2 separate regions of the Homo sapiens genome follow, and region 2 is linked to region 1. A link means that fine-mapping ties the variant in region 1 to the expression of a gene that starts in the linked region. Tissue or cell type: whole blood. Region 1 holds a variant in brackets; the other region holds the start of a gene. All regions are shown on one strand. Distances are from middle to middle.

What was found. PIP is the estimated chance that this variant, and not a neighbour inherited with it, causes the effect.
Region 2: WAPL starts here. The variant in region 1 is fine-mapped to the expression of WAPL in whole blood (INTERVAL, PIP above 0.99).

What each region holds. Positions count from the first base shown.
Region 1 is chr10:86,452,434-86,460,537 of GRCh38, forward strand. WAPL (WAPL cohesin release factor) reads right to left here. Exons shown (of 19, transcript NM_015045.5): 11 at 7,966-8,063; 12 at 6,556-6,632; 13 at 1,223-1,398; 14 at 787-902. Among named protein-coding and RNA genes, the nearest start is that of WAPL, 65 kb to the right of the region's middle. The variant G/A (reference allele first, on the strand shown) is at 4,212.
Region 2 is chr10:86,517,968-86,526,071 of GRCh38, forward strand. WAPL (WAPL cohesin release factor) reads right to left here and starts at 3,825. Exons shown (of 19, transcript NM_015045.5): 1 at 3,398-3,825; 2 at 1-124. The coding sequence starts at 102. It overlaps WAPL-DT (WAPL divergent transcript), which reads left to right and starts at 3,980. Exons shown (of 2, transcript NR_186498.1): 1 at 3,980-4,442; 2 at 4,542-7,134. RefSeq lists silencers at 3,319-3,738, 3,879-4,438.

The DNA.
Region 1 (8,104 bases):
ATACAAAAATAAGCCAGGTGTGTTGTCAGATGCCTGTAATCCCACCTAATTGGGAGGCTGAGGCAGGAGAATAGCTTGAACCCAGGAGATGGAGGTTGCAGTGAGCCGAGACTGTGCCACTGCACTCCAGCCTGGGCAAGAGAGTGAGTGAGACTCCATCTCAAAAACAAACAAAAAAAGAACAAAAAAAACAAAACAAAAAAACCACCGATTTTCCCAAAGAATCATTCCTTTTATTTTTAATTGCCAATTTTAGCTTTCGTACTTTTTATTTTTACATAGGGTCTTTTCATGGCTTTCTTTTGCACAATAAGAAGTACGTTCAGCCAGACGCAATAGCTCATACCTGTAATCCCACCACTTTGGGAGGCTGAGGCGGGCAGATCACTTGAGGCCAGGAGTTTGAAACCAGCCTTGGCAACATGGCAAAACCCCGTCTCTACTAAAAATACAAAAATTAGCCAGGCGTGGTGGCACATGCCTACAGTCCCAGCACCTGGAAGGCTGAGGCAGGAGAACTGCTTGAACCAGGGAGGCGGAGGTTGCAGTGAGCCAAGATGTTGCCACTGTAGACTCCATCTCCCAAAAAAAAAAAAAAAAAAAAAAAAAAAAAAAAAAAAAAAAAAAAAAAAAAAAAAGAAACACACACAGTAAGTTCATAAGGAAATTCATGAAAAAAAACCCACAATATATTAAAGGGTTGGTTCTTAAACCCAAACTAAGGTTAACATTTTGCACACCTTATTAGATATGATACTCATTTCTGAAAAAGTCATTTCAACTTACCAGCACTCGAATATCAAATCTCTGCTCCTGAGGTAGGTACTTTGGAACCTGAAGCACACAGTTCAGCGCTGTGCCTATGAGACCGTCCTGCTCTCCTGTTTTGGTGCTGCCCCACTCTGAAATAAGAAATGGATACAGGAAAATGGTTACTGATTCTTCCTTAGAACACTAATAATGGAGATTTATTAACATGGATATTAACTTAGAATTGTATAGTCATTCCTCTATTGAAACATACTATTGATACTTCTGGGTCAAGCTACTAGGCTTCTAAAAATATCAACTCTTAAAAGCAATTTAAACCTACACATGAGTAAGTCAAGTACATTATGACAAATAAAAAAATCACTACCCCAGGAAAAGGAGAAACAAAAATAACTTGTTTTCACATGCAATATACATCTTTCAATGAGAAAAAAATGGAAAAAAATCTTACCATTATCATTAGTTAAATTAAGCAACACCCCGATGATGGCCCTCATGCAGTCCTCCACTGCTTTGCCTACATGGTTAGTTACATTCTGGTGAGGCAGAGGCTTACTGTCAGCTAAGCATATGCTGTCCTCAGCACGGTTGTACTGCTGAATCAGTTCTTCACAATGCTGTAATGCTCTTAAAAGGAAATAAAATATAGACTATTATAGTAAATAATAATAGGTACACAGCAAATTTCTATTTACTTGAACCTAAAGGCTATCGGATGAAATTTCACTTTATTTTGGAAAAATCTGATACCTTAAAAAACTTATTCAAGGAATGTTAAAATTAAAAACTTATGGCAGAAGTTTATATCTGTACTATCTACATTTACCACTAGTAATCTCTTTATTTCCAAATTGTCTCGCATGTTATTGATCTCTCCAATATAAGAGACAGACCACAACCCTTTCTCAAACAGGGCAAATGGTTAACAGCTAATGTTGGACACTTCTGAGGTAGTAAATGTTATTACTACATAACAAATGTTAATGTAAAGACAAGTATTAAATATTTCATACGCATTAGAGCAAATCATTATTTTTATTACCTTCACTACCAACGTTGACAGTATAAATCATTATTTTTTAATTTAAGTTCATTCAAATTGACATGTCTCCTCGACAATTTTCCAAGGGGATGAGCTACATCTAAGGATTCTCGCTCTCCCTCTCCCTCTCCCTCCACAATCTCCCTCTCCCTCTCTCTCCACGGTCTCCCTCTGATGCCAAGCCGAGGCTGGACTGTACTGCCGCCATCTCGGCTCACTGCAACCTCCCTGCCTGATTCTCCTGCCTCAGCCTGCCTAGTGCCTGGGACTGCAGGCGGGCGCCGCCACACCTGACTGGTTTTTGCTGGAGTGCAGTGGCGTGATCTTGGCTCGCTACAACCTCCACCTCCCAGCCGCCTGCCTTGGCCTCCCAAAGTGCGGAGACTGCAGCCTCTGCCCAGCCGCCACCCTGTCTGGGAAGTGAGGAGCGTCTCTGCCTGGCCGCCCATCGTCTGGGATGTGAGGAGGCCCTCTGCCCGGCCGCCCAGCCTGGGAAGTGAGGAGTGCCTCTTCCCAGCCGCCATCCCGTCTGGGAAGTGACGAGCGTCTCTGCCCGGCCGCCCATCGTCTGAGATGTGGGGAGCACCTCTGCCCGGCCGCGACCCCGTCTGGGAACTGAGGAGTGTCTCTGCCCGACCGCCACCCCGTCTGGGAGGTGAGGAGCGTCTCTGCCCGGCCACCCCGTCTGAGAAGTGAGGAGCCCCTCCGCCCGGCAGCCGCCCGGTCTGGGAAGTGAGGAGCGTCTCCGCCCGGCAGCCACCCCGTCCGGGAGGTGGGGGGCAGCCCCCGCCCGGCCAGCCGCCCCGTCCGGGAGGGAGGTGGGGGGCAGCCCCCGCCCGGCAGCCGCCCCGTCCAGGAGGTGGGGGGGTGCCTCTGCCCGGCCACCCCGTCTGGGAAGTGAGGAGCCCCTCTGCCCGGCCGCCACCCCGTCTGGGAGGTGTACCCAACAGCTCACTGAGAACGGGCCATGATGACGATGGCAGTTTTGTCGAACAGAAAAGGGGGAAATGTGGGGAAAAGAAAATCAGATTGTTATTGTGTCTGTGTAGAAAGAAGTAGACATAGGAGACTCCATTTTGTTCTGTACTAAGAAAAATTCTTCTGCCTTGGGATGCTGTTAATCTGCAAACTTACCCCCAACCCCGTGCTCTCTGAAACATGTGCTGTGTCCACTCAGGGTTAAATGGATTAAGGGCAGTGCAAGATGTGCTTTGTTAAACAGATGCTTGAAGGCAGCATGCTCGTTAAGAGTCATCACCACTCCTTAATCTCAAGTACCCAGGGACACAAACACAAGGAAGGCCGCAGGGTCCTCTGCCTAGGAAAACCAGAGACCCTTGTTCACATGTTTATCTGCTGACCTTCCCTCCACTATCGTCCTATGACCCTGCCAAATCCCCCTCTCCGAGAAACACCCAAGAATGATCAATAAATACTAAAAAAAAAAAAAGAAAGAAAGAAAAAAAAAGAAAAAAAGAAAACAAATAAAAATTTGCTAGCAGGGTGAGATGGGACAGAATAAAAGATAGAGCGTAAATCTATAATTGTAAAATACTTAACAGCAGGTGGGTTGCATAAAAAATATAGCATCTAGATCAGGGACAAATGGAAAAGAAGGCGATATTACTGCATTAGGTTCCCAGAGGTGCTATACAAACAGAAACATGTTTTCTAAATGGTGAAACAGGTATTGAAATGACTCTTTATCAGAACTATGAGTCTTTTTCGCAAGAGAAATTGGATTTACTAGTTGAATGTTTTTCTCTTCCTCTGGCCACAAAGGATATTGGGGCAACTTGAGAGAGGAATCAATAATGTAGAGTCTGATGGACACTCAATGATCAGCCTCATAATCTGACTACATAAGCACAATAAAACAAAGTCAGAGTGTCTTGCAAGCTGTCACAGGGGTACTAAGCTGAGAGAAGGACCTTAGTTAAGGCAGCTAGCACTGAGAGGTTTTGTTCAAGCATTCTATCTTTCTATATTCCATTTCACGTCTACTAAATGGTGTCCAAAGTTGCAAAGGTGGTTCTACCCTAATAAGGTAATGGCAAGAAACTATTCTGTATATTGCATGATGATCAGAATAAAACCCAAAGAAATATTTGTAAGGTAAAGGACAAAATGTGTGTGTCATTAAAAACTTTATGATACCAAAAAAAAAAAAAAAGGATTCTCAAGATACTACCCAAAATAACAAGGAAATATAATCCCTAATGGGTCTAGTATTTCTAAAGACACTATTTAAATCACCAAGTCCACGATTTTTAAGTTTAATACAAATCAAGTAAGCTCACTCTGTCAGTTGATTCTTCATGCATTATATATCACACAAAATTCTTAAAGAAACCGTATCTAATCTACGCCTAGTTGCCCTTTAAAACATACTGAGGAA[G/A]TTCTGTAAAAGTTCTTAATATTTTACAACCCTTTGGTCAGGAAGGTGTTCCTCATGTCTAACCTAAAATAATTTGTTCTTCTGGTATTGAATGCTGGTCAGGATTACCATACTGTCACTGGTAACTCAACTGTTTTCAGGCTGGGCTAAACTGGGGCTTTGAAGACAAAAGGAGGTTCAGCATATGTTATTTAATCTTTCTGTATGCTATCTCCGAATTGATCATGGTTTCTGCTGAAAAGCTTAAAAACCTAGAGATAAGTGCTCTTTTACAAACACTCAATTCTGACCTCTACTGCCACTTCCAAGACATTTGGCCTGAATTTCCTAATCACAACAAAAGAGCACCTGTCATATCAAATACTTCCTCTTACAAGGTAGTTGTCAGAGGTTATGAAGTATACAAAAGAGATATTTTTAAATCAGAAACAACATACACAATTTTTCTTAATTTAAAAAAGAAAATGAAATCAGAAACATTTAACTTCAATAATCTTTGGTAAGGAAGGGTAAAAACATGGTAGCAAACAACCAGAATGCATGCGGTAAGAGCACTAAATACAGGCAATGCACAGTGGCTAATGCCTGTAATCCCAACATTTTGGGAGGTCAAGGCAGGAGAATCACTTAAGCCCACGAGTTTGAGACCAGCTGGGACAACATAGCAAGACCCTGTATCTATTAAAAAAAAAAAAAAAAAAGAGAGTGCTAAATATATATAAAATAGGCCAGGCACGGTGGCTCACATCTGTAATCCCAACACTTTGGGAGGCCAAGGCGGGTGGATCACCTGAGGTCAGGAGTTCGAGACCAGCCTGGTCAACATGGTGAAACCCCGTCTCTGCTAAAAATACAAAAATTAGCCAAGTGTGGTGGCGCACACCTGTTGTCCCAGCTATTCGGAAGGCTGAGGCAGGAGAATCATGTGAATCCAGAAGGCAGAGGTTGCAGTGAGCCGAGATCATGCCACTGTACTCCAGCCTGGGCTCAGAAAAAAAAATAAAATAAAATAAAGAAAAATAAAATATACAAATGCAAGATACAAAACGTACAAATCCAAGACAAAAAAAGGAGATTTTAAAAACCTACAGATTAAGAAAATCTACTGAGACTAGAAATTTGAGACTACTGAAAATTAGAATATTGACTAAACATAAAATATTAAGCAACTAATAATGTGTGGCATGAAAATGGCACTGGGGTTATATTTTTTAAAAGAGTCCTTTTCTTCTAGGCATTATGTACTTAAGTATTTATGGACGAAATAATATCTGGATCTGTTTCAAATAATACAGGAGAGGGAATGGATGAGGTTACAGATGGAAACCAGACTGGCCATGATTGATAATGTGTACATTACAGTTTATTACACTATTTATATTTGAATTCCTCCAAAATAAGAGGTTAAAAAACAGATAAACTAGAGTAAGACTGCAATGGGCCTTTGATAAGGCTGACTTCAATAAGAAAGTTGTACATATATCCAAAGACAATAAGGAATCAGAGATTTGAGAAATTAAAATTATTTTTTCAAAGCAGCGATTTGGAGAAAGTTAACTCCATGTGGTATTGTTCTGGATAGGCTAAAGGCCAGAGAACTAGGGCAGATATCAAGAACTAGGACAGAGATATCAGGAAGAGGTTGCTGTAATAAGACAGAACCAGGACTGGAGACATACTTGGGAATTTTACCTGCAAGGAGGTGACAGCATTAGCCTAATTGTGATGAAATGTGGGAAGAAATAAATGTGGAATGGAAGAAGCTACATACAGATATAGAAAAACAGGTCTAAATAAAGTGCAGAAGAACAGAGAAAAGTCCATTTAAAACAAGAATGAGGAAAAATGCTTAGTATTTACTATACGCCAAGTACTGTTCTAGGCTTTGCACATTAACTAATTTAACTCATTAATATGTATCACAAATGATACAAAAGATACTTTAAAAATCATTTAAATTTAAATTTTTTATATGTATTTTTAATATACACATATTTTTAAATATCTACTATGTATATATTTCTTACAAACATACAAATTAACTCATTTTACTGTAATAAAAATCCTAGGTGGGTTAGCCACTATTATTATCCCCCTTGTAAAGAGCTTGATTTGTACATTACAAAAGTTATACAGCTGAAATTATCAAGCTGGAATCCACACTGTCATTTTGTGTCCAAAATCTGTACTCTTAAAACTTTTGTTACACAATGTGAACCAATTCACAGAACTCAACAGAGCATTTCATGGAGGAAGCTAATCCAAATTTCTTTCATTTATGGTCAATCCAAATGTTTAAAATAAGTAACAATGTTAGTTGTTAACTAATAAACAAAAAACTTACTTAGCTGATGAAACAATAAGTTGGGAATCTTTATATGCTATCAAGTAGCTTTGATTTTCGGGATTATGCACAGTTACCTAAAAAGGAAGAATATGAAATAATTGTGGCAATCCAAAACTTTCATTCATTCATGTAACACCACATTCTGCCTGGTGCGTAAAAGATACAAAGATGAGGAAGAAACAGCCCTTGTTACCAAAGGGAATAATTTCACAACCTACAGGTTCCAGGTGTAAAATAAGAAAGCTAATGCTTTATGAAAAAATTAAGACATCACTGTTATATTCATTCATAATTAACATATTCTACACTACATATTCACTGTAACGAATTGCCAAACACACTGAATGTCAGAATAGAGCAGTCCTCAACTTACAAATAACGTAAAGTTCATAAGTAGATTCATTTAGAACACATTTTTACAAAGAAGTATCTGTTATCTACTGTGCCCAAAGCACTCTAGAAGACACATGGAACGCTACAATTTAATCTATGCCAGGAGCTTTTAATTTATACTATACTACTTTTAAAATAACCTGGTGAACAAACCTATGCATCCTGAAATTAGCTGGCAGTATAAATTCTAATCTATACGGAACTGGGTTAAGTCTTTCGTAAGAGTCAAAGAACAAAATATACTCGCTGCAGTTCAACAGTATCATTCTCCAAAGCCAAATATTATGACAGGCCATGCCTATAAACAATCTGACTCAAATAAAAGTCAAATAAACAAAATGCTAATAACAATTTAAAAATAAAACCTGATTGCATTTCACTATTGTTATCTACAAACAATGTAGTCAAGTAGAAATTCACATTAAGGAAAAAACAATAAAGATTGGAGGGGCCCAGCAAAGTGTAACGCCTGTAATCCCAATACTTTGGGAGGCTGAAGCCGGCAGGCCACTTGAAACTAGGAGTTTGAGACCAGCCTGGCCAACATGGCAAAACCCCGACTCTACTAAAAATACAAAAATCAGAAGGGCATGATGGCACATGCCTATAATCCCAGCTACTCAAGAGGCTGAGGCATGAAATTGCTTGAACCCGGGAAGCAGAGGTTGCAGTGAGCTAAGATCATGTCACTGCACTGTAGCCTGGGTGACAGAGTGAGACTCTGGCTCAAAAAATAATAATAAAAATAATAAAATCTTTAAAAAAGATTGGCATATGTAAACAAACAAGCCTAACATTTCATTTGCAGCAATAATACATGTACTCTTAAAATATAAAACTACTCATTTAGCTTGTTTATTAACAACTGGTTGCTCAAAAAATGTACTGCTATTTCTATCTGGATTAACAGAAGTGAACCTCCAGGGGTATATAAAATATTTGGCAGTCTCTCTCTTACACACACAATCACAATTAAGACTGAATAATTTTTGCCAAATAGTCATCCATACTTACACTTTCTAAAACTCGTAAACATCTCTCTGCTCCCCATAGTGAGGCTACCAGTTTCTCTTCATCCTCATCTCTACTTAAATGATCCACACATTCTTTTACTAGGTGAAAAGAAACAAACGTAAGTTAGTATTTATCATCG
Region 2 (8,104 bases), 66 kb after region 1:
TTTTGTGCTAAGGGTAGTCCGTTTGTTGGAAAAGACTTCATCGAATTTTGAACTGCCATTTCCACCTTTCCTACTGTATGTTTTCCCAAATCTGGATGTCATTTTGACACCAGTTTCATATTCTCTGTGAAAAAAAATTTAAGAAAACATATAATCATCAAATACAAGTGTTAAACAGTGCATATAAAAATAAAAACCTAGGGATTCTTCCCTCATGACTTTTGACACTCACCACACAGACTTTTAAATAAACAAATATGAGGAAGGGGTATAAAGAAAGGCTGATTTATTACCCTACATGCTTCCATGTCAATTTTCCTCCACAATGAGTACATATTCCTACGCTACTTACAAAGTAAAAAAACTTAATGATTAACCAACTTATAATACGATATCCATAAAGCTAACTTAAAATGAAGCATATTAAGTTCCAAATGAATTAATTTACTATTCTTATAAACATCATTTTTACCTTAAAAAATTATCTGTATAGAGGCTGGGAGGCCGAGGCAGGCAGCTCACTTGAGGCCAGGAGTTTGAGACCAGCCTGCCCAACACGGTGAAACCCCATCTCTACTAAAAATACAAAAATTAGCTGGGAGTGGTGGCACGCACCTGTAATCCCAGCTACTTGAGAAGCTGGAGCAGAAGAACCGCTTGAACTCAGGAGATGGAGGTTGCAGTGATATAATGATAACCTGTATAGGGTAATTACTTATATAAAATCTTAAGCACAGAATGTTAGTTTTTTTCAGGGCCTCAGAAATATCCAATACTTGATTAAATTTAGTTCTTTGAAATTTCATGGCACTAATTCACATGAGAAAAAAGGTCCCCAAAATGGTGCTTTTTCTCATGTTTTACAACCTGCAGCTTTTAACCCAATCTTGAAGATTCTGCTTCTTGGTGTAATGTAATTTGCGCTGTGACTTTAAAAATGTTCCTTAGATGGTCATCTCCCTAGGGAAAGAAACTATCCTTATCCTATCTGCCTTGTCCCGATAGTGCTGTGCTCATTTGCTGAGTTATATTTTCTGGGGCTAGTGAGCTCCAGCATATTACACTGTTTCATGGATTAATACAGACATAGAAACATACAACTTTTATTTTCCTTTTCAATTTATAAATGGCAAATCGATTCACCTGATTTATCTACTTCACAGGACAAAAAAAAAAATCTTTAGGGCAGTAAATCAAGAGTCAAACATTTTTTAAAACAAGTTACTTGCATTAGTTCTGTGCCTATTAAAAAGTTATAGTACTTTTTAAACATGATCAATCAGTAACCGTTTGTCTAACACTTTGACCTTTCTACAGTTCAAACATGAATACATCGAATATAACTTTAAAAAGTGAACAAGGGCCTAAGGAATGAAAAATCATTACTTTGAAAGCTACAAGAATTGAAATTATATTTGACCTATACTTTTGAATATGTTTTGATCTACACTTGTTTTCCCTTGATTAACTTAAATTCTTACCATTTATAATGAGTCACTGTCTGAGTTTTATATAAATTCAGTAGTAGACCCCCCCCCATGTTTGGTGAGAACCCAATTTTAATTTGACAAGGTAATAATTTAGTCATCATACATATCTGCGTTAAGAGAAAACAGTGTTCCTGAAGGAGATGTATTTCATCTTCCACTGCAGCTCTAACACTAACAAGTCTTACTGTCTTTCTTGTTAAGTACAGCCTAAACAAAACAGGATACTGGGCAACTACCACGGACAACAAAATAAAAATCGATTCTCTGTTCCTTCAAGAATGTAAAGCTGAGATCCTGCAGGTCTGTAAGTGTACGTACACATACACACCAACAAAGATGGAATGTTTTGGATTCACTTATGTGCTAATCATCTAAAAATACTAACCAAAGGCCAAACCAAAAATCTAGACTTGAGTTCCTTTATGCCAACATCAGAAAAACTGTTAAAATGGTTCTATAACCACAAAGCATTCACTGTTGAAAGTTTGAAGTCTTCAGATGAATACCTGACACTAAGGACTTAATTATTTTATGTGATAAAAAATAATTTTGTGCTGGCTGGGGGCGGCAGGTCACGCCTGTAATTCCAGCACTCTGGGAAGCCAAGACGGGCAGATCACCTGAGGCCAGGAGTTCGAGACCAGCCTGACCAACATGGAGAAACCACGTTTCTACTAAAAATAGAAAATTAGCCGGGCGTGGTGGCGCATGCCTGTAATCCCAGCTACTCCGGAGGCTGGGGCAGGAGAATCAATTGAACCTGGGAGGCGGAGGTTGCGGTGAGCTGAGATCGCGCCACTGCACTCCAGCCTGGGCAACAAGGGCGAAACTCCGTCTCAAAATAATAATAATAATGATAATAATAATTTTGTGCCAAAAGACCACGTCTTTTACAAATACATAGTGAAATACTGATGAAATAACGTCAGCGATTTTCCAACATTAAGGAATGAGAAGTGTATAGATGAAATAAATTTGTTTAATAGTCACTGCTAAATCCAAGCGATGGGTACAGAGAAGTTCATTATATAATATCTCCTCCTGATTGCCTTTATCGTTTCCCACAATAAAATGTCTTTGCAATGGCATTATCTAAGCGTAAAGCACTACAGATTCCAAAATAAGTGTGCAGACGTCCTTGAAGTTAAATTTTAAGTGTTTCAAGTACACAATCTTGCTCAACCTTTAAACTCCAAAGACTGTCCTAACTAAAAAGGAAAGAATGATTGACGACTAAGTCTTTTCGGTCGTTCGGCTTTTGCCCTAGCCCAAAATCAGGTCGAATTTTGAGAGAAGTGCGCTGTGATTTAAAAAAAAAAAAAAAAAAAAAAAAGCAAAAAGCCTTTATACTTCACTCCCACCCTAATCTAGCGTCTTCCCGATCCCCAAAGGCTTTAAGGGCTTCCATTAAAGATGGAAAGCGGACGGGACGAACCTGACTAACCAGAAATCCTCACCTGGGGACAGCCGGGGCGCCACGGGCAGTGGGCGCGATGGACCCCTCGGACTAGACACTCAATGCAACTTTTCTCCTCCCAACCCGCGCCGCCCAGGAAAGGGAGGTCACTTTCGACGCCCCGGAAGCCTCTGCCACCGAATCCTTAAGGCAGTGCAAGGCCCCAGTGGCGGCCAGAGGCGGATGAAACCACGGGAAAGGACTCGGGGCTGAAATCAACACACTTGACTGGGTTTGGGGAGCTAAGTCAATCAGCAGTCGCCCGAAAAAGAACTCCGAAAAAGGAAAATAAAAGGGGAAAAAAAGAGTTCCTCAGGTCATTCCCCTGCCCAACTTCCTCAGCGGCCCGGTGGGCGAGGCAGTGAGACTTCCACCGCCCGCTCCCAGCCTCTGCCTCCCCCACCCTCCCGGCTCCCTCCCGGCCTAGGCGGCCGCCCGACACCTCACTTACCCTCGGAGCCTGGCGGGTGCTTTGGCCACGGGCCGCCTCCGCCTCTCCCGCTCCCTACGGCCCGCGGGCGGGCGCGGAACCCTCGCGCGGGAGAGCAGGGCCGGCAGGTGAGAGCCGAGAGAGGCGAGGGACTCTGCTTTCGGTAAATAGGAAGCCCGGTTGGGGGGGCAGGAGCGGCGGCCCCGCAACTTCCCTCCCCGCCTCGAGCGCCGCCGGCCGGGCCCAGGCCTAGCTCTCGCTGGCCGCCACTGCTGGAGCTGGTAACAGAGCCTGCTGTGTGCCCCCGCTGGGCCGCCGCCGCCTCCTGCGCCGCCGCTTCCGCCGGTGAATGGTCAGTGCTGGAGTTTGAACAGGGCCCTGAACCATCTCAACGCCATTTGCGCTCCCGGCCCCCACCTCCTTCCTCCAACAGCCGCTCGCTCCGTCACTCCGCTTCCCACAGTCCCCGCGCGGCCGCCCGACCCCGCAGCCAATCGCGCAGCCGCTTACTCAAACCGCCGCGCAGGCGCTGCGCCCCGCATGCTCCGGCGCCCGCCATTGGCCCGGCCGCGGAGCCCGACGGGAGTTGTAGTCCAGGTCCGCGAGGTCGCGGGCCGAGGACCAGGCGCGGGAGCGGGAGCGGGCGACTGGCCGGGCCCTCCCGGTCTCGGCAGCCACTTCTAGCTCCCGGCCCAGCCGGGAGACGCAGGTGCCACGGAGATGGGCAGCCGGGCGGGTGGCGCAGTGCAGGCAGCTGTATCAATCGCTTCCCCTCCAGGGACCCGCCGGTGCCTGGGGACCGCGGGCTGTGCAGCTGTGCCGGGCCTGCGGAGGCCGCCGCCCGGGAGCTGGGAGGCAGGGGGCGCGTGGTCAAGAGCCGCCCTCGACCTGGCCTGGTCGGTCCTGGCCCGGCGTAGGTGACGATGGCGGGGACCGCGAGGCGCCGGACACCCGAGGCCACGAGCAGCGTCGCCCCTCGCTTTTTCGCGCCCCTCCAGCCCTGCAGTCCTTCCTCTAAGTCCGTCTGCCCCTCACCGATTGAAAGTGGCCCCGAGAATATTGGATGGTATTGAGCAATTATCATTAACTTTGTTGGGTGTGGTAACGGTAATGTGGTTATGGTTTTTTGTTTTTTTTTTTTTAAGACCTACTGATGTGTTGACAGAGTGATCTGGTGTCAGGACTGTAAAATACGCCTATGAAAACTGGGGGAGAGGAATAAAACAAGCTGGCAGAACGTTTTTCATCGTTGAAGCTGCGTGATGCGAGCATATGTGCTCATCATACAGTCTCTTTACTTGTGTATCTGAAATTTTCCATAATAAAAAGTTTAAAGAAGTGAACCAGCGATTGCCTCTAGGGAGGACAGTGAGGTGGCGGATGACGGGAGGAAGGAGTCTTAATTTTTCGCTGTACGCCTTTTTGTGCTATCTTAGGTTTTTCCCATTCAATGTGTTACCTAATTCAGAAAATTGGTAAGTTTTTTTTAAGGCTACCATGGGAAAACAGCGTTCTAAAGAGTAGCGCAACCAGTTCCCCCTAAGAGAGGTGCATGATTCGTCGGACTCCGACAGCCTTGGTGTTTGTTAGGCGGTTAATGGAGACCCACCTGGGAAATTAGAAAACTACTAATTGCTTTCAGTGAGAAGCCCGCCCTTCTCCCACAAATGGATAATTTGCTTTTAATGCACCCAGAAGTTATCCAGCTCCCTCCGGTATAATCGGGGAAACTCCAAATAAAGGAAAAATAGTTCAGAGACCCTGCAGCTCTTCCCAAGAGGAATTTAAGGTGGATTTTAGTGTGGTTGGATTGTTTTGCCTACCTGACTGCAGAATTTATATTCTGACATTTACAATTTCCTAAATACTGAATCAGTACTTTTTCTTGTTTCAAAATAAATCAACTTCTTCTGTAGTTTATATGAAAAACAAGTCCATGTCTTCCACTGTGGGTGGGATGCACATGACTGTTTTATTTGGGTCAGTTTTGTCTCTTTTTTTAATTGGCAGTTTAGGAACTTGTTTTTATCATTTTGTTTAAAGATCTTCTGGCAGAGGTGCAGGCTGCACTTACTATAATTATTTAGATGACAAGGTGGTGGGTGGTAATTAAAGGGTAATTATCATCAGAGGCAAAAGGTAAGATCAAAAAACCAGAAGAGGTGAGGAAACAATTGCAAGATCTTCCTGTAGGAGGGTGTCGTGATCCTCCCAAGACCAAAGGATATGTCTATTATGCCTGGCCTCTCTAGTGCTGGACACTTGGCAGGGTCAGTGCCTGCATGAGGCTGAAGTGGAAGGGCTTATTGTTTAGACTGGTGCCTTTTGAGGGCTTTTATGTGATGGTTGTGTTAAGTAATGAAACTTAGTAGTGTCAAATTCTTGCCACTCAAAGAATGATCCCCAATCAGCAGTGTAGCATCACCTGGAAGCCTGTAAGGAACGCATAATTCCTATCCCTCACCCCAGCTCCACTGAATCAGAACCTGCATTTTAACAGGATTCCCCCAGCTGATTGGGCTGCACATTAAAGTTTGACAAGCACTGATTTAAAGTATACCCATAGCATTTGACAGCAATCTAGTATTTTTCGTTAGGATGAGGGAGAGGAAGGGAGATGATTAAGAACCTCCTATGCATCAGGTAAGATGCTAGGCTGTTCAGGGGCCTTGTCTGCTTCCCAGTCCATTACTCTATCTTACAAGTAAGGAAATGGGAAGACTTGTATGTTACAACTAATGAGGGAGTCAAACTTTTTCTTGACGGTTGGATACCCTTTAGTACTTCTTGGTGTTCTTGAATCTGGTAGAAAGTGGTACATGATTTGAGAAGTAAAGTGTGTGTGAGTGTGTGTGTGTGTGTGTGTGTGTGTGTGTATTTAGTCTGTGGAAGCTTAGTATATGAATATTAAGCAGAGCTCTTCTGGGCTCTGTACCCTTGTGTGGCTCACACTAAAGACACCCCTCGGGCCCCTCCTGGAGGGAGTTCAGACTCCTGGCCCTGCAGGCTGTACCACCACCTTAACCCCTTACCTCCCTGCTTCCACTGAGGCAAGCAAATGCCCTGAAGTCCCCTCATTCCCTTACCAGGGCCCTGGGTTCCACACCAGAATGAGCAAACAGAACTCCAGTGTGGGTAACACATGGCTGAACAGCTTTTTGTTGTATTGTTTTTGTTTTCTTAGTTCTCTCAGCTCAGGCTCCATCCCCCTGGCCACCTCAACCCCTAGAATGGTTGTCTCCATTTCATGAGAATCTTCACACTAACATCAAGTAGCCAGTAGGTGCTTTTGGTTTTGCTAGAATGCCTGTGTGCAAGCTCTCAGATACCTGATTTTCTTTCCCCCACTGAATGTTGTGTTTGTCAGAAACTGAAATCATGGATCAGAGCCAAGTTTGTAGTACCCTTAGGAGGGGCCTCTGCCCTCCTGTGTGCTGCCTGGGTGAGGACAGAACCCCCTAACCTGGAGCTCCACTTGAGTGGGCCCATACCTGTACTTTCCTCTGAAAAAAGAAAATCCTGCAAAGAAAATAGAAGACATCTGTTCTGCCATTGCCATGCCCTTGTTCTAGCCCAGACATGAGAACTGTCAGAATTGGAGTTACTAAATAGAACTTTTAGTCTTTTTCTGATAATGTGTAGTAAAGTGTATTACAACTTATAGAATTCTATTTAGGGAACTACAGGTCAGAAACTACCATATTGGTAGCAGTCAATTTTTCTTTGCCATCGGATGTGGAATAAAATGTTAAATTGTACACTTGCATGTTGTGGTTATATTACAAAGCTCTACGAGATGTGGGCCAGGCCCTGCCCTTTGCTCATGCAGCCCCAACTTTCTGCTCTGCCCACACCTGACTCCTTGCTGTTTCCCCACCTTAGGGCCTTTGTATTTCCTATTCCCTCTGCCTACAACTCCCCCAGATACCAGCCTGCTTCAATTCTCTCCTCTAGGTTTTCACTCAGATGGGACTTTTCAATGAATCTCCCCTGACCAACCTATCTTAAATTGTTGCAACATCCTCACTCCTAAATGTCACTGTCCCTGCTTTACTTTCTTTAAGGGCATTTATCTTCCCATCTAACATATCAGGCATTTTGCATGTTTATCTTAAATGTTGTGCTCCCTCTGAAGGCAGGGATCTCTGCCTGTCTTGTTTTCTGCTGCAACCCTAGCACCTAGAAGACTGCCTGGCACAAGAGTAGGTGCTCAATAAATATTTGTTGAATAAAAGCACCCATTTATTTCCTTCTTTCATGTAAAATTATATACATATATTATATATATATATATATATATTTTTTTTTTTTTTTTTTTAGACGGAGTCTCGCTCTGTCACCAGGCTGGAGTGCAGTGGCGCGATCTCGGCTCACTGCAATCTCTGCCTCCCTGGTTCAAGCGATTCCCCTGCCTCAGCCTCCCCAGTAGCTGGGACTACAGGCGCACACCACCACACCCAGCTCATTTTTTGTATTTTAGTAGAGATGGTGTTTTGCATGTTGGCCAGGATGGTTTCGATCTCTTGACCTTGTGATCCGCCTGGCTCAGCCTCCCAAAGTGCTGGGATTACAGGTGTGAGCTACCATGCCTGGCCACATTTTTTTTTTTTTTTTTTTTTTTTTTTTTTGGTGACAGAGTCTTGCTCTGTCGCCCAGGCTGGAATGTAGTGGCACGATCTCCAATCACTGCAACCTCCACCTCCAGGGTTCAAGCCATCCTCCCACCTC